3 separate regions of the Homo sapiens genome follow, and all the other regions are reported to be linked to region 1. Evidence: microRNA targets listed by miRTarBase, many of them from high-throughput screens and not tested one by one. Region 1 holds a microRNA gene; each other region holds the end of a gene's coding sequence.

What was found. The annotated mature microRNA hsa-miR-6757-3p reads AACACUGGCCUUGCUAUCCCCA and lies in region 1 at 4,446-4,467, shown strand. An mRNA with a match to its seed (bases 2 to 7 or 8) in the 3' UTR can be bound and repressed. Matches are read on the target gene's strand: a 7mer-m8 pairs with bases 2 to 8, a 7mer-A1 pairs with bases 2 to 7 and ends in A, and an 8mer does both.
Region 2: the mRNA of COXFA4L3 is a reported target of hsa-miR-6757-3p. Seed matches in the 3' UTR shown: 7mer-m8 at 861-867.
Region 3: miRTarBase lists BAK1 as a target of hsa-miR-6757-3p. Seed matches in the 3' UTR shown: 7mer-A1 at 2,131-2,137.

What each region holds. Positions count from the first base shown.
Region 1 is chr12:53,052,545-53,059,732 of GRCh38, forward strand. It overlaps MIR6757 (microRNA 6757), which reads left to right and starts at 4,400; the gene lies at 4,400-4,468. TNS2 (tensin 2) reads left to right here. Exons shown (of 29, transcript NM_170754.4): 4 at 867-905; 5 at 1,230-1,268; 6 at 1,421-1,470; 7 at 1,726-1,897; 8 at 2,642-2,692; 9 at 3,024-3,146; 10 at 3,237-3,301; 11 at 4,469-4,552; 12 at 5,023-5,135; 13 at 5,229-5,289; 14 at 5,483-5,558; 15 at 5,772-5,901; 16 at 6,028-6,093; 17 at 6,170-6,283; 1 more. It overlaps TNS2-AS1 (TNS2 antisense RNA 1), which reads right to left and starts at 1,894. Exons shown (of 4, transcript NR_033854.1): 1 at 1,777-1,894; 2 at 852-1,030. RefSeq lists an enhancer at 937-1,176.
Region 2 is chr15:45,432,235-45,439,389 of GRCh38, forward strand. It overlaps COXFA4L3 (cytochrome c oxidase associated subunit FA4L3), which reads left to right. Exons shown (of 5, transcript NM_197955.3): 5 at 714-1,106. The coding sequence ends at 782. MIR147B (microRNA 147b) reads left to right here and starts at 816; the gene lies at 816-895. It overlaps LOC107987223 (a long non-coding RNA gene), which reads right to left. Exons shown (of 2, transcript XR_001751510.2): 2 at 1,235-1,916.
Region 3 is chr6:33,567,784-33,574,938 of GRCh38, reverse strand. It overlaps BAK1 (BCL2 antagonist/killer 1), which reads left to right. Exons shown (of 6, transcript NM_001188.4): 5 at 725-905; 6 at 1,032-2,387. The coding sequence ends at 1,136. Among named protein-coding and RNA genes, the nearest start is that of BAK1, 8.9 kb to the left of the region's middle. RefSeq lists an enhancer at 3,233-3,522.

The DNA.
Region 1 (7,188 bases):
CTCCCAAACAGGCTTCTGCAACCACACTGGCATCAACCCTCCACCTCCACCCCTCTCACCACTGGGGAACCCCTCCTGGGTGGGAGGGGTGCTGTACTGGGCCCTTTAAGAACCACCCTACTCCGCCTTCTGGAGGGCTGGCCAGCCCAGGCGGGTGGACAGCAAGACAGCGTTTGTCTTGGTGCTGTGCCCAGACTGCAGCTGGCGAGAGGATGGGGGTGGGGAAGAGGAGGAGAATGAGGAGGAGGAAGGGTGGGGTGGGTGGGGAGTGGGGGAGCAGGATTTCAGAGACTGGGCAGCCGGATGGGCTGTGCCTTCCCTCTGGGGAAGGGTCCTCAAAATGCCTGGGCGGGTCTTGTCCTGGGCCCTGGAAAAACTGGGCCTTTCCAGGTATAAGCTGTGGATAGCACCCACTGTCCACTGGGGACCTGAGACAGCCCTGTCTCTGAAGAGGTCCCCTGGTCCTCTTCCTTCAGGACAGGGGGAGGAGGATCCCAGGGCCCTGGAGCTGGCTTGGGGGAGCTGTGTGCCCAGGGGCGGGGTCTCCCGGTGAAAGAAGCCAGTGTCCATCCCTGGCCATGGCCTGCCTGCTTGGCTCTATATATAACTCCTGCCCTACAGCTGGATGAATGGGGGTCTGTGTGGGCTGGGGGCTGAGCGCCAAGAGCAACAAGTGGGGGGCCTGGGGGGTGGGGGACCAAGAGGCCAGAGGGGAGGTGCCCTTAAATAGCGCAACCTCAGCTGGAGCCTGTGCCCATCCACTGAAGGCCCCTCCACCTTCCTCCTGAAGCTGAGGGGCTGCCCCATCCTCAAGCCCACGAGAGCCCTTCACCAGGAGCTCAGTTCCTTACTCGGTCCCCTTCCAGGTGACTTCAGCCTGTCAGGCCTTGCCTCCCGTGGAGTTGGTGAGTGCGCTCTGGGATGGGGTGGGGAGGGCAAGGAACCTGGCCATGGTGTCCAGAGGTCTGGTGGCTCCAGAGAGGGCCCCCAGGAGATGACCTTGAACGGAGTGCTGTGGGTATTGCTCATCCTATGAGGAAAGAAAAAACTGTCTGAGTCCTCTGCTGATCTTGTGCCCTTGGGCCTGCTGGGGGTAGGACTCCTCTCCCCTTATCCAGTACAGCCTTCAAAAGGACACTGACATTCCCTTCCCCTGTCCCCAAGGCCCACATTGGTCCTTGCCCCTGCTGTAACTAACCACTCCCTTTTCCTCCCCCATCTCCCTCTAGCGGCGAAACACGGCCCCAGTCAGGCGCATAGAGCACCTGGTAAGGTGATGCTGGAGCAGGAGGGGGAAGCAGGTAGCTTTGGGAGTAAGGATCTAGATTTCCTGAAGACAAAAAGGGCATGGCTCTGGAGTGGGCAGTCTAGAGTAGGGGGTACCCAAAGAGATGTCTAGACACTGTCTGTTAACCACCAGGGATCCACCAAATCTCTGAACCACTCAAAGCAGCGCAGCACTCTGCCCAGGTAAGTGAGGGTGCTGGGGTGGTCCCACGTGACCCCCTTTCCGCCGGCCCCACACCTCAGCCCAGGGCACTGCCCCGCAACAGAGCTCCCCGGGACAGCCCCCCACCCCCAAAGCGGTATTCTCCCTCCAGACCGATCCACCCACCCTCAGGACCCAGCAGGCTTCACCTGCTGCCCAACAGACAGCCTTCCCGTCACACTAGCCACCTCCGGGTGCCCCGCCCCTGCGTTCATGCGTAGGCTCCTCCTCCCCAGGAGCTTCAGCCTGGACCCGCTCATGGAGCGGCGCTGGGACTTAGACCTCACCTACGTGACGGAGCGCATCTTGGCCGCCGCCTTCCCCGCGCGGCCCGATGAACAGCGGCACCGGGGCCACCTGCGCGAGCTGGCCCATGTGCTGCAATCCAAGCACCGGGACAAGTACCTGGTGAGGGGCGGGGCCATCAGGAGTCCGCCAATGAGAGGGATGTAGGGTCCAGATGGGCGAGGCTAATCACTGACGTCACCAGCGGAGGCGAGGCCGCCAGGGGGCGGGACCAGAGTGGTGGGGTGGGGGCGGGGCCCGGAGCGCGGCCTGGAGCGGAGCGGAGAATCCTGGAACGCTGGCGACTTGGCTGTGACTGGCTAGGCCGGGCCTTAGCTACCTTTTTATTTTCTTTATTTATTTACCTTTTTTTTGAGACGGGGTCTCACTTTGTTGCCCAGGCTGGAGTGCAGTGGCACGATCTCACCTCACTGCAACCTCCTCCACCCGGGCTCAAGCGATTCTCCCACCTCAGCCTCAGTAGCTAGGATTACAGGCGTGCGTCACTCACGCCCAGCCAATTTTTTTTTTTTTTTTTTTTTTTTTTTGTATTTTTTGTAGAGACGGGGTTTCGCCATGTTGGCCAGGCTGGTCTCAAGACTCCAGGGCTCAAGCGATCCACACCCGGCAAATTGTTGTAATTTTAGTAGAGATGAGGTTTCACCATGTTGGCCAGGCTGGTCTCGAACTCCTGACCTCAGGTGACCCGCCCGCCTTGGTCTCCCAAAGTGCTGGGGTTATAGGCGTGAGTTACTGCGACCGGCCTGCACCTTATTTTAGAGGAAGATTCTTACTTAGGATCCACCTCCACCTCGTGCCTCATTGCCGGAGATCATTTCTGTCTAAAGCCCTCCCCCTTTATTTCAGCTCTTCAACCTTTCAGAGAAAAGGCATGACCTGACCCGCTTAAACCCCAAGGTATGAAGGAAATGGCCTGCCCAACCATTAAACCAAGCCACCCCAACCCCAGAAGCCCCCAGCTTCCTCGTTATTAATAGTAGCAATTGGCATCTACTTCACTCTTAAGCACTTTCCCACTCTCCCATGATATATTACTGGAGACACCCCAAAACGTGATGCAGCAGGTATCAGCCCATTGTATGGATAAGGAAAGTGCCGAGGCTATCATGGACAACCAGCAGACCCCCAGCCTTGCCCCCGGACCCCTATGCCCTGTCCCCTTTCCACCCTGCCCATCTCTCTCTGTTGGTGGCCCCCGGCCCCAGTTGCACCCCTGCATTCTCCCCAGGTTCAAGACTTCGGCTGGCCTGAGCTGCATGCTCCACCCCTGGACAAGCTGTGCTCCATCTGCAAAGCCATGGAGACATGGCTCAGTGCTGACCCACAGCACGTGGTCGTACTATACTGCAAGGTGGGCCAGGACCTCGGGTTCCCTGGTGCCTGGAGGTTCCAGGTCAGCCTGGAGCTCCCAGACCCTCATCCCTGTCTCTCTGTCTGTCAGGGAAACAAGGGCAAGCTTGGGGTCATCGTTTCTGCCTACATGCACTACAGCAAGATCTCTGCAGGGTGAGGCTCCCAGCGCCTGAGTAGCTGCTTCCCCAGTGGCCCTTTCTCCAGCTGGCCCCTTAGGAACCCATCTCCCCTGGAGCCCACCTCTTCGTTGAGAGTCCTTTGCTGTCAGCTTAGCACTTCCACCTCCCTTTTATCACTAGTACTGCAACATAGTCTGCAGCAGATGGTCTGTAGAGTTTCCTGGGGCAGCCACAAACAGGGTGGTGTAAAACAGTGGAAATGGGCCGGGTGCGTTGGCTCACGCCTGTAATACCAGCACTTTGGGAGGCTGAGGTGGGCAGGTCACCTGAGGTCAGGAGTTTGAAACTAGCCTGGCCAGGTGAAACCCCATCTCTACCAAAAATATAAAAATATAAAAATTAGCCGGGCGTGGTGGTGGGCGCCTGTAATCCCAGCTACTCAGGAGGCTGAGGCAGGAGAATTGCTTGAACCCAGGAGACGGAGGTTGCAGTGAGCCCACACGGTGCCACTGTACTCCAGCCTGGGTGACAGAGTCAGACTCCGTCTCAAAAAAAACAAAAACAAAACAAAACAAAAAACAGTGGAAATGTACTCTCTCACAGTTCTGGAGGCCAGAAGCCCCAAACCAAGCTGTCAGCAGGCCCTTGCTCCATCTGAGACTCGGGATGGAATCCTTCCTTGTCTCTTTCTAGCTTCCAGTGGTGGGCGGCAAGCCTTGGCATTCCTTGGTTTGCAGACACATCACTGTAATCGCTGCCTCTGTCATCACATGGTGTTCTCCCTGTGTGTCTCTGTCTGTGTCTCTTCCTCTCTTCTTATAAGGACACCAATCATATTGGATTCAGGGTCCACCCTCCTTCAGTATGGTCTCATCTTAACTAATTATGTCTGCAACGGCCCTATTTCCAAATAAGGTCACATTCTGAGGTACATGTCTTTTGGGGGGATATAATTCAACCCATAAGATGGTTTTGTTGCCCTGTTTTACAGATGAAAAAACTAAAGTTCAGGGAACAATTGCCTGAGGCCCAACAACTAGTAAAGTGACTGTACATGGTGCTTCTCATTCTCATTACCACTACTCTGGGCTTCTTCTAGACTTAGAGAATCATATTTCTCCTCCATCCCCTGGGGCTTAGGGATGGGAGGCCAGGATGAAGATTAATCCCTAATCCCCAACACTGGCCTTGCTATCCCCAGGGCGGACCAGGCACTGGCCACTCTTACCATGCGGAAATTCTGCGAGGACAAGGTGGCCACAGAACTGCAGCCCTCCCAGCGTCGGTGAGCAGCCTGGGTGGGGATGGGCCAGAGGAGCAGCTCCCTTCATGGCTACCAAGGCCAAGACTCTCTTATTCATGCAGCACACTTTCACTGAGTGTGCCAAGCGCCGTGCCAGGTGCTGAGAATTCAAAGTGGACAAAGCCCCTGCTCTCATGGAGCTTTCATGCTAGTAGGGTGGAAGGCAGTAGACCTGGGAATAAATAGACGAGGAGATCAGTCATAAAGAGAACCTGAAGGACAGTCAGGGCCTGCCACTATAAAGTGAAGCAGAGCTCTGGGGAAAGAGCTTTGAGGCAGAGGGGAGCAGGAGGGATTGAGGTTAGATGCAAGGAAGAACTTTCTGGTGACCCGGAAGATGGGAAGGAAGTGTTGAGCAGAAGAGCGAGCCTTCTAAGGGTGGATGGTTGAAATGATACAAGGTGACCTCCAGAGGAAAAGGCTTATGTTCTCCTTGACACGCCCTCCACCAGATATATCAGCTACTTCAGTGGGCTGCTATCTGGCTCCATCAGAATGAACAGCAGCCCTCTCTTCCTGCACTATGTGCTCATCCCCATGCTGCCAGCCTTTGAACCTGGCACAGGTGAGTCTGCCTGAGATGTGCTCCCTAGGGAGAACCACCTTCAGGCCCTCTCCACTCAGCACCCCTCCTGTGCCTTCTCCTCTGCCCCTCCAGGCTTCCAGCCCTTCCTTAAAATCTACCAGTCCATGCAGCTTGTCTACACATCTGGAGTCTAGTGAGTGCTCTATTCCCAGGCCCCTGACACTTCATGACCAGGGCCCCTCTTGCTCCTGCATTCCTGCTTCTCCAGCCTCCCTAGACACCTGGGCAGGGCTCAGACTCTGGTCTCCTGGCTCCCCCTGACTGCATAGCTGCCTCTGCACGCAGGAGCTTCTGGTTCATCTCTGCCTTCTCCTCTCTCCCCACAGTCACATTGCAGGCCCTGGTCCCCAGCAGCTTTGCATCAGCCTGGAGCCAGCCCTCCTCCTCAAAGGCGATGTCATGGTGAGGGGGGTCCTGTCAACAAGAAGAATCCTGGAGATGGGGCAGGGGTTGGTGGTGTAACGGCACAGTCACCAATTTGAGACAGATTGGAGAGCGAGTAGGGAGATCACCTTGAGATCGAGGCAGGGCAGAAGCTGTGACCAGGCAGTCCCCAGGGTGGAAGCGCAGAAGAGGACATGAGGCCTGATCCGCAGCCTCCTGCCTTTCTCCCAGGTAACATGTTATCACAAGGGTGGCCGGGGCACAGACCGGACCCTCGTGTTCCGAGTCCAGTTCCACACCTGCACCATCCACGGACCACAGCTCACTTTCCCCAAGGACCAGCTTGACGAGGCCTGGACTGGTGAGTCTGAGACAAGTGGCCTGGGGCTGGAGTCCAGGTGGCAGGCAGGTGGCAGGCAGGTGGCAGGCAGGCAGGAGAGTGTGGTATGGGCCAGGGGCCTGGTTCTTCACTGTCCACTCCCCATAGATGAGAGGTTCCCCTTCCAAGCCTCCGTGGAGTTTGTCTTCTCCTCCAGCCCCGAGAAGATCAAAGGTAAGAGCAGGGACATGGGCTGGGGACTGAGGGCCGCCTCTCCCCTGCTCCCCAATACCCGAGTGGCCTTCCACAGGCAGCACTCCACGGAACGACCCCTCGGTCTCTGTCGACTACAACACCACTGAGCCAGCCGTGCGCTGGGACTCCTATGAGAACTTCAACCAGCACCACGAGGACAGTGTGGATGGTGCGCAGGCAGCCTGCAGGGTGGGAGGTACAGGGTTGTGGCGGGACCCTGGGGGGTGGTGCCAGGGAGAAGCACACTCCCTCCTCCCCAGGCAGAGCCCACTCCCGAGAGACACCCCCGGCCCGACAGCTGTCTCCAGTGCCATCCCCTCTCATGAATTTTCTCTCTCCCTCCCTGTTCCCCGCTTGCCCTCCCTCCCTGATCCTCTTCCCCACTCAGGCTCCTTGACCCACACCCGGGGTCCCCTGGATGGCAGTCCTTATGCCCAGGTGCAGCGGCCTCCCCGGCAGACCCCCCCGGCACCCTCTCCAGAGCCTCCACCACCCCCCATGCTCTCTGTCAGCAGCGACTCAGGCCATTCCTCCACGCTGACCACAGAGCCGGCTGCTGAGTCCCCTGGCCGGCCGCCCCCTACAGCTGCTGAACGGCAGGAGCTGGATCGCCTCCTAGGAGGCTGCGGAGTGGCCAGTGGGGGCCGGGGAGCTGGGCGCGAGACGGCCATCCTAGATGACGAAGAGCAGCCCACTGTGGGCGGAGGCCCCCACCTCGGAGTGTATCCAGGCCATAGGCCTGGCCTCAGCCGCCACTGCTCCTGCCGCCAGGGCTACCGGGAGCCCTGCGGGGTTCCCAATGGGGGCTACTACCGGCCAGAGGGAACCCTGGAGAGGAGGCGACTGGCCTACGGGGGCTATGAGGGATCCCCCCAGGGCTACGCCGAGGCCTCGATGGAGAAGAGGCGCCTCTGCCGATCGCTGTCAGAGGGGCTATACCCCTACCCACCTGAGATGGGGAAACCAGCCACTGGGGACTTTGGCTACCGCGCCCCAGGCTACCGGGAGGTGGTCATCCTGGAGGACCCTGGGCTGCCTGCCCTATACCCATGCCCAGCCTGCGAGGAGAAGCTG
Region 2 (7,155 bases), not on the chromosome of region 1:
CAATTGTGCCTTCATCGAGTAATTAAAATGAGGAAATTTTAAGAGCCTACTCTATGCCAGGAGCATTGTCCATCCACTCATGAGAAGCATATACACTTTTGGAACTATGGCTCACATAATACCTGGCAAACTTAAAAATCTGGATACCGGCCAGGCACGGTGTCTCACACCTGTAATGCCAACACTTTGGGAGGCCGAGGCGGGTGGATCACTTGAAGTCAGGAGTTCGAGACCAGCTTGGCCAACATGGTGAAATTCCATCTTTACTAAAAATACAAAAATTAGCTGGGTGTAGTAGAACGCACCTGTAAACCCAGCTACTGGAGAGGCTGAGGCACGAAAATTGCTTGAACATGGGAGGCGGAGGCTGCAGTGAGTTGCAGTTGTGCCACTGCACTCCAGCCTGGGCAACACAGCAAGACTGTCTTAAAAAAAAATCTGGATACTGCTAAGTGAAAGTAGGGCACATGTGTTTGATCTTTCCCTCTGATCTCATAACACTTAGGAGCCCAAGGGCTTTGTAAAAAGATGGACTGATAGAAACCAGCTCACATTACTATTTTGTGCATGTTTTAGATATGGAAAGAGGTAGGTACAAACACAATGGTGATGCTTTTTCTAAAGGGGAGTGTGGACAAATCCGAAAGAGGGACATGCAAATGAAAGTCAAATTTTTAACAAAAGGTTTTTTTTTTTTCCTTTTTTCTCTTCAGCTTATAACAATCAACCAACAATGGAAACCCATTGAAGAGTTGCAAAATGTCCAAAGGGTGACCAAATGACGAGCCCTCGCCTCTTTCTTCTGAAGAGTACTCTATAAATCTAGTGGAAACATTTCTGCACAAACTAGATTCTGGACACCAGTGTGCGGAAATGCTTCTGCTACATTTTTAGGGTTTGTCTACATTTTTTGGGCTCTGGATAAGGAATTAAAGGAGTGCAGCAATAACTGCACTGTCTAAAAGTTTGTGCTTATTTTCTTGTAAATTTGAATATTGCATATTGAAATTTTTGTTTATGATCTATGAATGTTTTTCTTAAAATTTACAAAGCTTTGTAAATTAGATTTTCTTTAATAAAATGCCATTTGTGCAAGATTTCTCAAAGATTAGGTATATATTTAAATGGAAGAGAAAATATTTTTATGGGAGAAAAATACATTTGAACCATGAAATTTCATCTTTTAAATAACATCCAGTACAGATTTCTGTGTAAGCTTTTTTTTCCAAGTTCATTCATTCACTAGTAGTTTATTGAGCATCTACTATTTGCAGTATAGCTAACAAAGCCAAAATTTGGTGGGATACGAATAAAAGATGGTAAGTACAATGAGGAAAATGAAGTGGGGATGAGGTTGGAGACTCGCATGAGGACTGACCTTGGAGGAAGTGTAGGATTCTGGAGATGAATTGGAATGCAAGGCATACTGAGATCTGCCCTAAAGATGCCAAGCCAGGCTGGGCGCGTGGCTCACGCCTGTCATCCCAGCACTTTGGGAGGCTGAGGCGGGCAGATCACAAGGTCAGGAGATTGAGACCATCCTGGCTAACACAGTGAAACCCCGTCTCTACTAAAAATACAAAAAATTAGCTGGGCGTGGTGGCGGGCGCCTGTAGTCCCAGTTACTCGGGAGGCTGAGGCAGGAGAATGGCATGAACCCGGGAGGCAGAGCTTGCAGTGAGCTGAGATCACACCACTGCACTCCAGCCTGGGTGACAGAGTGAGACTCCGTCTCAAAAAAAAAAAAAAAATGCCAAGCCATACTGTGATGTTCCTGTGGAGGCTAGGGAGAGGAAGATGGGGAGCCTTGCCAGCGCTCTTCAGAGTTTGGGGCCACTCTTCCCTCTGGCCAATGGTAACTTGAAGGCTGAAGATACATTCATATCCAGCATGCCGCTGGGCTCCCCTGCCTGTCCCTAAAAATGAAATAAGAAGAAAGTTGCTTTTCATTAACTTTTTTTAAAAAAATGGAGATATAATTCACATGTCATAGTATTCACCCATTTAAATTGAACAATTCAGTGGTTTTTAGCGTATTCACAAAGTTGTGCAACCATCTCCATCTACTTTCAGAACATCTTCCTTACCCCAGAAAGAACTCTGTACCATTAGCAGTCATTTCCCTAGTCCCAACCCCTCTGCTCCCAGCCCCAGGGAAATACTAATAAACTGTCTCTATGGATTTGCCCATTCTGGACATCTCATGTAAATGGAATCAGGCAATATGTGACCTTTGGGTTTGGCTCCTTTAACTTGGTATAGTGTTTTTAAGAGTCATCTATGTTGTACCATGTTTATATTATCAGTATTTCATTACTTTTTCTGACAGTACTCTTCCAGTGTAAGGATATGCCATTTTTGTTCATTGGTAAGTTGATGAACATTTGGGTTGTTTCTACTTTTTGGCTATTATGAATAATGCTGCTATGAACAGCCATGTACAAATTTTTGTGTGGCCATATATTTTTGGTTCTCCTAAGTAGGTACCTAAGTTCGTTAACTTTTTTTTTTTTTTTTTTTTTTTTGAGACAGGGTCTTGCTGTGTCACCCAGACTAGACAGGCTGGAGTGCAGTGGCACCATCTCATAAACTTTGCCTCCTGGGCTCAAGCAATTCTCGTGCCTCAGCCTCCTGAGTAGCTGGGATTACAGGCATGCACCACCACCACACCTGGATAATTTTTGTATTTTTAGTAGAGGCAGGGTTTTTGCCATGTTGGCCAGGCTGGTCTTGAACTCCTGACCTCAAGTGATCCAACTGCCTGATCACTTGAGGAAAGGAGTGATCCCTTCCCTCCCCATTGGATCATGGCTAACACCCCTATAACAAAAGACAGGTTAACTAGAAAAAGCATAACACACTTATAGTTTACTTGACATGGTAGCCTTCAGAATGAAGACCCAAAGATATAGGGAAAACTGTTCATTTTTATGCTTATGTTCAATGAAAAGTCGATGTAGAAATATGATTGGACATGTAGAAATATGGACAAAAAGGATATGGTCCTAATGCTATCAGAATAGACTACATGGGGAAGCTCACCAAGGCCTGTCTGCAGCATTTCCTTCTGCTGGGTGTGGGGGTGGGATCCCTCTGGAATGAGTGTCTTAATTTCTTTATGGCCAGCTGTTACATAGAAAGGTGGGGGAAATTTAAGAGCAATATATTTAGGTTTTATGGCTGGCTTTCAGGAAACGGGATTCTGGCTTCTATGGCCGGTCTTGGAGAAGAGGAATTCTAGTTTCTATGGCTCACCTGGGGAAGAATCAGGGTCAACAGACAGGAGGGCAGAGAAACTTTGCTTCTGCGGCCTTCATTTGGGGTATCATTTTTTGGGCTCCAGCGTTACCTTCACAGCAATAACAAATAACTAGGTTTTGCCAGGAACTTGGCAACTCTGAGAGGATTAAAGCAAGACTGCTGCCAACTTCTGTTGCTTCCTTATCACCTCAAGTCGTCTCAGATTAAAGTCTCTGATAGTTGATCTCAAGGAATTACACGTAGCAATTGGGAAGCACATTTTTATTTGCTTAAGCTTCTAAAGTCTAATGTAATGTCATTTGCACAAATAAAAATTAACGGTTGGTCAACTAAGAGAGCAAAGTATAGAGTGTTTTTCAAGGGATGACTGTGGCTTTCAACTTTAAAACACAAACCTGATTGAAATGTGGTGGTGTGAACATGGCAATGGGAGGTACTTTTCTGCAGGTTTAGGAGGGAGAGAGGCCAAAAGCAATGTTGATGCTTAAATTTCAAAAGATTTGGGTTTTGTTGTTGTGTTCTTAGCATTTCCTTCAAACATTTTATTTTGAAATTTTTCAAATATGCAGAGAAGTTGAAAGTTACTCACACTTCTTATCAATTAACATTGTGCCACATTTGCTGTATCTCCCTGTGTATGTATGCTTTTCAAAAATTAACTCGTTGAGGCCAGGCACAGTGGCTCATGCCTGTAATCCCAACACTTTGGGAGGCTGAGGCGGGCAGATGGCTTGAGCCCAGGAGTTTGAGACCAGTGTGGACAACATGGCGAAACATCTCCACTAAAAATGCAAAAATTAGCCAGGTGTGGTGGCACACACCTGTGGTCCCAGCTACTTGGGAGGCTGATGTGGGAGGATCACCTGACCCTGGGAGGTCAAGGCTGCAGACAGCCTTGATCTCACACCACTGCACTCCAGCCTGGGCAACCCAAGTGAGACCCTGTCTCAAAAAAAAAAAAAAAAAAAAGTGTTGAGAACAAGTTACAGACATGAGGCTTTTTTCCCTAAAAATTTAAGCATGTACTCACTGCCTAAGATAAAAGACATTGTAGCTGACTAGAATACCATTATCATCCCTAAGAAAGTTAACATTCATTCAATAATATCACCTATCATAAATATGATAGTGATATCATAAATATCACCTTTTTTTCCTCTAATTGTCTCAAAAATATCCTTTATATCTGTATTTTAAAATCCAGAATCATCTACTCCAAGGTTTACTTGTTGCATTTGTCTAAGTTGTACTGAGTACTTGACTGACTTGTGGTCATGAAAATGACTCCAAAGCAGCTTTTATAGAACGGCCATCTCTACAGATAACGAGAACATTACCCGGATAACATTCTCTTACATGCAGACTTTACAATTTTTTATTTACAATCTAATAATGATGTATTTTCATGTAGTTTATAAGAGGTTGTACAATTGATGAGCACTCACTATGTGCTAGACGCTGTGCTGGCCTTGAGGCTCTTACAGCTTAGGAAAGGGATACACACATGTAAACAGCATGAGAGCAATGCCAGGACAATAAAGCAAGGACAGGAGTAGGCACATGGTATGAAGGAAAGCTTCCCAAAGAAGGTGGATCCCTGAAAGTCTACTTCGGCTGATTTCTTGAAAAAAAAAAAAAAAAAATCATCATCATTACAAGTCAGCAAGGCAATTGAAGTAGAGGCACATTTTTACCAAGACAGAGCCACCTAAAGTAGCATGGTGTCTCTTGGAAACTTGGAGTAGATTAATACAGGGAATTTTTTTTTTTTTTTTTTTTTGAGACAGGGTCTCACTTTCATTGCCCAGGCTGGAGTGCAGTGGTGCAATTACAGCCCACTGCAGCCTCGACCTCCCCAGCTCAAGTGATCCTCCCACTCAGCCTCCTAAGTAGCTGGGACTATAGGCTAGAGACTGAGTTTCGGCATGTTGGCCAGGCTGGCCTCAAACTCCTCGCATCAAGCAATCCTCCTGCCTTCGCCTCTGAAATTGCTGGGATTACAGGCATAAGCCATCCTACCTGACCAATACAGAGTATTTTTAATATTAAGAGAGATAATTGGAGAAAAAGAAGTAGGTGGAATGTGTAGGACATTTGTGCTATTATCTTCCAGGCACAAAGGAACCAGAAAAGGATTTTAAGTTGAGGGAGGAGGTAATAGTCTACTGCCAGGGGTGTCCAATCTTTTGGCTTCTCTGGGCCGCGTTGGAAGAAGAATTTTCTTGGGCCACACATAAAATACACTAACAAAATCACAAAAAAAAACCAAACTCAATGTTTTAAGAAAGTTTACAAATTTGTGCTGGGCCACACAAATACTACTAAAATAACAACTACAAAAAAAAAATTAGCTGGGTGTGGTGGCGCACGCCTGTAGTCCCAGCTACTCAGGAGGCTGAGGCAGGGGAATTGCTTGAAACGGGGAGGTGGAGGTTGTAGTTAGCCAAGATCATGCCACTGCACTCCAGCCTGCGACAGAGTGAGACTCCACCTCAAAAAAAAAAAAAAAAAAAAAAAAATGGGCCAGTTCAGGCCAGGCGCGGTGGCTCACGTCTATAATCCCAGCACTTTGGAAGGGTGAGGCTGGGTCACTTGAGATCAGGAGTTTAAGACCAGCCCGATCAACTTGGTGAAACCTCATCTCTGCTAAAAATACAAAAATTAGCCCTGTGTGGTGGTGTGCGCCTGTGATCCCAGCTACTCAGGAGGCTGAGGCAGGAAAATTGCTTGAACCTGGGAGGCAGAGGTTGCAGTGAGCTGAGATCGCGCCACTGCACTCTAGGCTGGGCAACAAAGTAAGACTCTGTCTCAAAAAAAGAAAAAAGAAAAAAAAACTGGGCCAGTTCATACCTGTTTAGGTTAGTAGTAATGATTACTTACAGGAGATAATAGCTATAAAGTACCTAAAATGGTGCTTAACATGGACTAGCTGTTCAGTAAGTATTCCCTTCTTCCTAAAGAAAAAAGATTATCCCTGTAATAACAGCACCTTGGGAGGCTGAGACAGGCAGATTGCTTGAGCTTAGGAGTTCGAGACCAGCCCTGGGCAACATGTGAAACCCTGTCTCTACAAAAAATAAAAAAATTAGCTGGGTGTGGTGACGCATGCCTGTGGTGCTATTCGGGATGCCGAAGTGGGAGGATTGCTTGAACCCAATAGGTGGAGGTTGCAGTGAGCCGAGATTGCACCACTGCACTCCAGCTTGGGTGACTAAGCAAGACCCTGTCTGAAAAAAAGGAGGTTATCACTATTAAAACTGCCGTATGTGTTTAGGATTACATTCCATGAGTGGGAGCATTGCGTGTTTCAAATCCATGCATACCCAGCTCTGTTTGAAATCTATGCATACCCGAGGACTCCTGGCCCATCTTTGGTTCACAACGCCCCAGTTACAAACCTTTTAGACAGAGTGCACACACAGCTGTAGATAAATGCATCCCATATTCACTCTCACCTACGTAGATACCTAGCTTAAAATAAGAACCCCTGCACACATAACACATATAGATGATCTCACAACCAGAAAAGACATAACAAAAACATACATATCTCCTTAGAAATAAGGCCCGGCATGGTGGCTCACAATCAGTAATCCCAGCACTGTGGGAGGCCGAAGCGGGCAGATCACTGCAGCCCAGGAGTTCGAGACCAGCCTGGCCAACATAGGGAAACCCCATCTCTACTAAAAATACAAAAAACTAGCTAGGCGTGTTGGCGCATACCTGTAATCCCAGCTACTCGGGAGGCTGAGAATTGCTTGAACCCAGGAGGTGGAGGTTGCAGTGAGCCAAGATTGCACCGCTGCACTCCAGCCTGGGTGAGAAAGCGTGACTATTATCTCAAAAAATAAATAAATAAATGTGCATATTTTAGTAATTACATATATTCTCACA
Region 3 (7,155 bases), not on the chromosome of region 1:
AGGGTGCTAACCTCTGCCAGGTCCTAGAAATGGCTCCTACTTGCTATAATCTGGCATCCAAGTGGTTAAAGACACCGAATATTTGGGTGCAAATCCAAGCTTTGCCACTTACTGCCTTCGTGAAGCTTCCTAGCCCTTAGTCTCCTGGTTTGTAAAATAGGGAAAATATGCTTAGATTAGTGTCCACCTTACAAAGTGTTAGCCATTGCTACCACCAGAGTTAGGGAAGTCAGTGTCGGAGTAGATTTGAAACTGGAGGTGAAGGTAGGAGTAAGTGATAGATTTTAGAATTAGTGCTCAGAGCTGAAATATCCAGTCCGTGAACTTAGAGGCCAGCCTTCATACCACTGTGATGACAGGAACTACCCTAATCTTTTCTGTCCTTTTCTCTCTGCTGTCCCTCGGGCTGCCAGGCCAGCAGCAACACCCACAGGTAATCTCCCCGCTGACTCCATCCACTTGCTCTGCCCTCTGCCCTCTCTGTGCCCCGTTGCACCTGAGCGTACACCCCAGCAGTGGCATCCAGCTCATCTGCCCCTGAGCTTTCTCCTTTCGCAGAGACCCAGGTTGTTCCCAAATACAGGCCAGGTTGGGGCAGCCTCTGCGGCCTTAATTCACAGCTAAGCTATTTAGCTTCCAGCTGGGAGAGGGGTGGGAGAGGCCAGGCAGGCTGAAGGGCTTCCTGGGGGCTCTCCACCAATGCTATGGGATGCTCTGCCCACAGCCTGTTTGAGAGTGGCATCAATTGGGGCCGTGTGGTGGCTCTTCTGGGCTTCGGCTACCGTCTGGCCCTACACGTCTACCAGCATGGCCTGACTGGCTTCCTAGGCCAGGTGACCCGCTTCGTGGTCGACTTCATGCTGCATCACTGCATTGCCCGGTGGATTGCACAGAGGGGTGGCTGGGTGAGTATCCAAGGACTGCAATGTCCTCCCTGCTGTTGGGGCTGCCCCTCTCCCAGGCCCCACCCCTTCCTCGGGTTCCTATATCTTCTGCTAGCCTCTCTGTGACCACCTTGTTTCTCCCGGCAGGTGGCAGCCCTGAACTTGGGCAATGGTCCCATCCTGAACGTGCTGGTGGTTCTGGGTGTGGTTCTGTTGGGCCAGTTTGTGGTACGAAGATTCTTCAAATCATGACTCCCAAGGGTGCCCTTTGGGGTCCCGGTTCAGACCCCTGCCTGGACTTAAGCGAAGTCTTTGCCTTCTCTGTTCCCTTGCAGGGGTCCCCCCTCAAGAGTACAGAAGCTTTAGCAAGTGTGCACTCCAGCTTCGGAGGGCCCCTGCGTGGGGGCCAGTCAGGCTGCAGAGGCACCTCAACATTGCATGGTGCTAGTGGGCCCTCTCTCTGGGCCCAGGGGCTGTGGCCGTCTCCTCCCTCAGCTCTCTGGGACCTCCTTAGCCCTGTCTGCTAGGCGCTGGGGAGACTGATAACTTGGGGAGGCAAGAGACTGGGAGCCACTTCTCCCCAGAAAGTGTTTAACGGTTTTAGCTTTTTATAATACCCTTGTGAGAGCCCATTCCCACCATTCTACCTGAGGCCAGGACGTCTGGGGTGTGGGGATTGGTGGGTCTATGTTCCCCAGGATTCAGCTATTCTGGAAGATCAGCACCCTAAGAGATGGGACTAGGACCTGAGCCTGGTCCTGGCCGTCCCTAAGCATGTGTCCCAGGAGCAGGACCTACTAGGAGAGGGGGGCCAAGGTCCTGCTCAACTCTACCCCTGCTCCCATTCCTCCCTCCGGCCATACTGCCTTTGCAGTTGGACTCTCAGGGATTCTGGGCTTGGGGTGTGGGGTGGGGTGGAGTCGCAGACCAGAGCTGTCTGAACTCACGTGTCAGAAGCCTCCAAGCCTGCCTCCCAAGGTCCTCTCAGTTCTCTCCCTTCCTCTCTCCTTATAGACACTTGCTCCCAACCCATTCACTACAGGTGAAGGCTCTCACCCCCATCCCTGGGGGCCTTGGGTGAGTGGCCTGCTAAGGCTCCTCCTTGCCCAGACTACAGGGCTTAGGACTTGGTTTGTTATATCAGGGAAAAGGAGTAGGGAGTTCATCTGGAGGGTTCTAAGTGGGAGAAGGACTATCAACACCACTAGGAATCCCAGAGGTGGGATCCTCCCTCATGGCTCTGGCACAGTGTAATCCAGGGGTGTAGATGGGGGAACTGTGAATACTTGAACTCTGTTCCCCCACCCTCCATGCTCCTCACCTGTCTAGGTCTCCTCAGGGTGGGGGGTGACAGTGCCTTCTCTATTGGGCACAGCCTAGGGTCTTGGGGGTCAGGGGGGAGAAGTTCTTGATTCAGCCAAATGCAGGGAGGGGAGGCAGATGGAGCCCATAGGCCACCCCCTATCCTCTGAGTGTTTGGAAATAAACTGTGCAATCCCCTCACCCTGACTTAGTTTTTGTATTCTCTGCTACCCCTCTTTCCATCAGGCCAGACTGTGGGAACCTGGGCACGCCTGGCATACATCTGGCTTATTACTGAATAAAACCTCACACTAGGCCTCTAGAATCCCATAGAGGCCTGAGTATGGTTCTGCAGCCCCCACTCCGATGGAAGGCGTTCGCCCCTCCCCATGAACTTCTCTCATCTCGTTGGGTTTCATGCAGTTTCCACCCTTTAGGAAGTCTGGGAGGTCCTTTAGCTACAGAGCTGGTGGAGCAGCTGCACATATCTGAGGACCCCCACAGGCTACCTCTGACCTGGGCTGAATTCTTCTCCCACCCTGGGGCTACCACCCACGCTGGTCCAAAAGGCCCTTCTCCCCCACATTTAGCTCTGCCTGGGACACAATGTCCCAGCTCCCCCTTCCTGATGTCTCCACAGTCAGCACACACGCAGGGCTTTCATTCTAGTTTTATGCTGCTTGGGAGTCCCTATGGGTACCCAGCCAGGGGTGATAAAAATAACAAGCATGGGGGCGTTTAAATGTTCCAAAATCTACAGTCTTTCCAGTCCTGGGCACCCTGGTCTGTGTTTCTGACGCCCTTCCAAAAGGGTCACATGCAAGTCCAAGAGAACTCGTGAGTTTCACCTTCACCCTCCTGGGGTGGGCTTGCCAAGCCCCTTTTCCCTCCACAAGGTCTTCAGAGTCTAGTACAGACGCGATCTTGGAAAAGGGAAAAGGCGGCGCTGCAGGCAGTGGTGGCTGGAAGGTGGTTGCTACAAGGCACCCCGCAGTGTACAGGAAAAGCTCACAGACAACATTTATAGAACACATACTGTGTGCCAGGCTTTATGCTGAGAGTTCATCATCTGCCCAAATAATAGGTAGGAGACGGGGGTGGGGGTACTCAAACTACTATTTACAGATAAGGAAACGGGTGCTTTCTCAGAGTCACCCAAGGAGTGAGGACTTGCCACCAGGAAACTGGCTCGAGTTTTACGTGGAGGCCGGAGAGCAATGTGGGGCTCGCGAGCACAGGTTTAAGAGGCCCAGAGTGCGGGGTCGCCTCCCTCCCGGAGCGATGCCATAGAGGTTAGAAGTGGGCGGCTGCCCGAGTCCAAGATGGCCGCCGCCGCGAGCACGCAAGCGTGCCCTTCCTTGGGCGGGGCCTTTGGGGCGCACCCACTCCAGCCTCTGGGCTTTGAACAGCATGCGGCATTGAGCGGCGAACAGATCGTTGCATCGCTGGAAGAAAGGCGGGTGGGCTGTGGTTAGCCTACTCGTCTAAGGAGCTGCAACGCTAACCGGAAAGGCATGGGTGGGGCAGCCCAAAAAGTTTTGGCCTGCACCGCCCCCCAACGCCCTCTATTCCGCTGCCAGGATATTCTGAAACCAGGGGGCGAGAAGTTAGGTCGGACACAGTCAGCCAGGGGCTGCGAGGATAACGGGAGTGTAGGGGCTCTGTGGGTATTAGGGAAGAGAAACCAAAAAAACTCATTTCTACTCAAACTGTGCGCTGCTTCTGAGATTGTGGCTTGGTTTCCACCAAATACGTCTGGGTTCGTCACAGTCTGTGATGTCACTGAGCTGGGGCAGCCCGGCCAGGGAAAGGAGCGGTGTGCAGCTGTCACCTGCTTAGTTCTGCAGTTTCAGTATGAATACCCGCCCTTCCTTGCACACAACAGCCTCACATTCTCCCCACCCCCACCCTGCCGTTTTACCTTCACGTATTTATTTTTACCTCCTCTGAAGAGTATATTTTAGAGAGTCACCGAGTGTCCATCCAAACCCTTTCATTTGAAAAAATCCTTCCTTAGCCTAAAATCACTCAGTATATTGAACAAGTTATTATGACATAGTCACCTGAATGCATTAAAATAAATTTACATGTATTCATTAAACTTAAACCACCATATCCACTAGTTTTTTTTGTTTTTGTTTTGTTTTTTCACCCGTGACAAAAATGTACCCCTCCTGCTCCAGTTGTATGCACTTCAGATGTAGAGGCCCCATTTTGTAAGATGCTTGTAAAATGTGGATTTAATTTTTTTTTTTTTTTTGAGACAGAGTCTCGCTCTGTCACCTAGGTTGGATGGAGTGCAGTGGCACAATCTCGGCTCACTACAACCTCCGCCTCCCGGGTTCAAGCGATTCTCCTGCCTTAGCCTCCCGAGTAGCTGAGACTACAGGCACGCGCCACCATGCCCGGCTAATTTTTTTTGTTGTTGTTGTATTTTTAGTAGAGACGGCGTTTCACCATTCTGGCCAGGCTGGTCTCGAACTCCTGACCTCATGATCTGCCCACCTTGGCCTCCCAAAGTTCTAGGATTACAGGCGTGAGCCACAGTGCGAGGCCCAAATGTGGATTTAATTCTATCTGAGCTGAACAGATAAGGATAATCATGATTTCGTGTGTGTGTGTGCGTGCGTGCATGCGTGTGTATGTGTGCGTGCATGCATGCGTGTGTGTGTGTGTGGAGAGAGAGAAAGAGAAGGGAGTTATTGAAGGTTGCTGGAGGTGCCCAAAGGTCAGGAACCAGAATCAGCAAAACCCAGCTTCTCCTGGGGTGTGTTGAGCTGTTGCTGGACACGTTAAAGGTGAACACTGGACTCCTGGGATATAAAAGTAAGACGTGAGAGGACAGGGGATTCAGTTCACTAGAAAATAATACAACAGGCTGGGCGCAGTGGCTCATGCCTGAATCCCAGCACTTTGGGAGGCCAAGGTGGGCAGATCATGAGGTCAGGAGTTCGAGATCGGCCTGACCAACATCGAGAAACCCTGTCTCTACTAAAAATACAAAAAATTAGCCGGGCATGGTGGTGCATGCCTCTAATTCCAGCTACTGTGGAGGCTGAGGCAGGAGAATCGCTTGAACTCGGGAGGCAGAGGTTGCAGTGAGCTGAGATAGTGCCATTGCACTCTAGCCTGGGCAACAAGAGTGAAACTCTGTCTCAAAAAAAAAAGAGAGAGAACAAAAAGTAATGATTTGGCCTACTGAAGCAGATCCCTGGCATATTTTATGAGTGATCCAATGAAGGGGCACCCCGCCCCCATTACCAAGATCAGGTGATGGACTAACAGGCAAAAACTGGACTTTTCTAGGAAAGGCCACTTCATAGCTGAAGAGACTGAAACCATACAACCTCCCTTTACCTGGAGTATGGGATTTGGCAATGGACGTGGGCAGGCACCAAATGGATGCATGTGAGAGTGTGAACGTGCGTGTGGCTAAGTGTGTATGTGGCATCTGGTGAGTAACATGTGAGTGGGCATGGGTTGTTGGAATCAAAGTATGAATCAATACATCTCTTAGCTCCATTTATCTCAACTCTTCCTTTGCAATCTTGGAATCATTCCTGGTGTCCAATGTCACAATTTTTTCCAAACAGCTTTGGCTAAGGACACACTGAAGGCTCCACTGAACCTTGAGGTGAACCTACTTTGTGAAGTTCATGGCACAGACTTTTGTGATAGCTGTGTGGGGCTGGGCTCACCAACCTTCTCATGTTCTAACCTGACCTGCTCTAAGCTGACCTCTGACCCCACTGAGGGCAGCTTATCCAGTTAATTTCCAGCGGATGGTTAGGCTTCCTCAAGTGTGTGAATATTTTTTTGCTAAAGTCTCAGGTGGGCCATACTGAGGAAAGGCAAGATGCATTTGGCATGTCTGGTGTCTCTGAAATTTGGAAGCTGTGAATTAGAGTGCAAGAGGCACTTCGATGTTGGTTACCATGTCTGCTAAAAAAAAAAAAAAAAAACAGATTTGCAGGAACCTAAATAACACTACTACCAGGCTATGTGTGAGAGGGGCTGTGGGCAGGTTAAAAGCCGAGTGCTGTCCTGGTAAGGGCATGGGGGATCCCCCTGCTTGTAATGCCTAGTAGAATGGGTGAGTGTCTTTTTTTTTTTTTTTTTTTGAGATGGAATCTCACTCTGTTGCCCAGACTGGAGTCCAGTGGCACAATCTCGGCTCACTGCAACCTCTGCCTCCTGGGTTCAAGCGATTCTCCTGCCTCAGCCTCCAGCTGGGATTACAGGCTCACTCTACCACGCCAGGCTAATTTTTGTATTTTTAGTAGAGACGGGGTTTCGTCATGTTGGCCTGGCTGGTCTTGAACCCTTGACAACTGATCCGCCCCTCAGCCTCCCAAAGTGCTTGGATTACAGGCGTGAGCCACCGCGCCCGGCCGGATGAGTGTCTTAACGTGAGCTTGGACTTTCATTCTGGGTGGCCTGCAGAATGCGCTAACTAGGAATAGCCCTTCCTTTTCCTGGCAAGAGGGGGCACATCCACGCTCAGTTCACCAGGAGACTGGGGATTCTTCTGAGTATTCCATGCATGCTTTTCCGTCTCCCCAGCCCCCTCCACCAGTGGGAGGCACTGCGATGTCTACAGGACTAGGGTGTTCAAATGCTGGTGTTCTCAGACAGCTCCTGTAATGGGCTGGCACCCCAAATCTAGACTGCATGGTGCCAAGCAGCCTGGGGTACCTCCACTGACAAAGCTGCTTTTTCATGCCAGCTCTACACAAAGGCAGCGTGATGGCAGGAAGGCCCTCCCACTGGAATGCACACTGGAAGAGCGCTCGGCTGCTCTGGCTCGGGGCCCTCCCCACCCTCGCGGCAAACCCCCACCCCCAGCAGGGTGGGGAGGGTGATGAGAGGAGGGTCAAGGAACCCATGCTGCTTCTCTTGATGATTTGTTGTCTTCTCTTCCCCCAGTAAAGCCTATTCCTAGGCTGTGTCACGCTGTGGAATTTGTCTC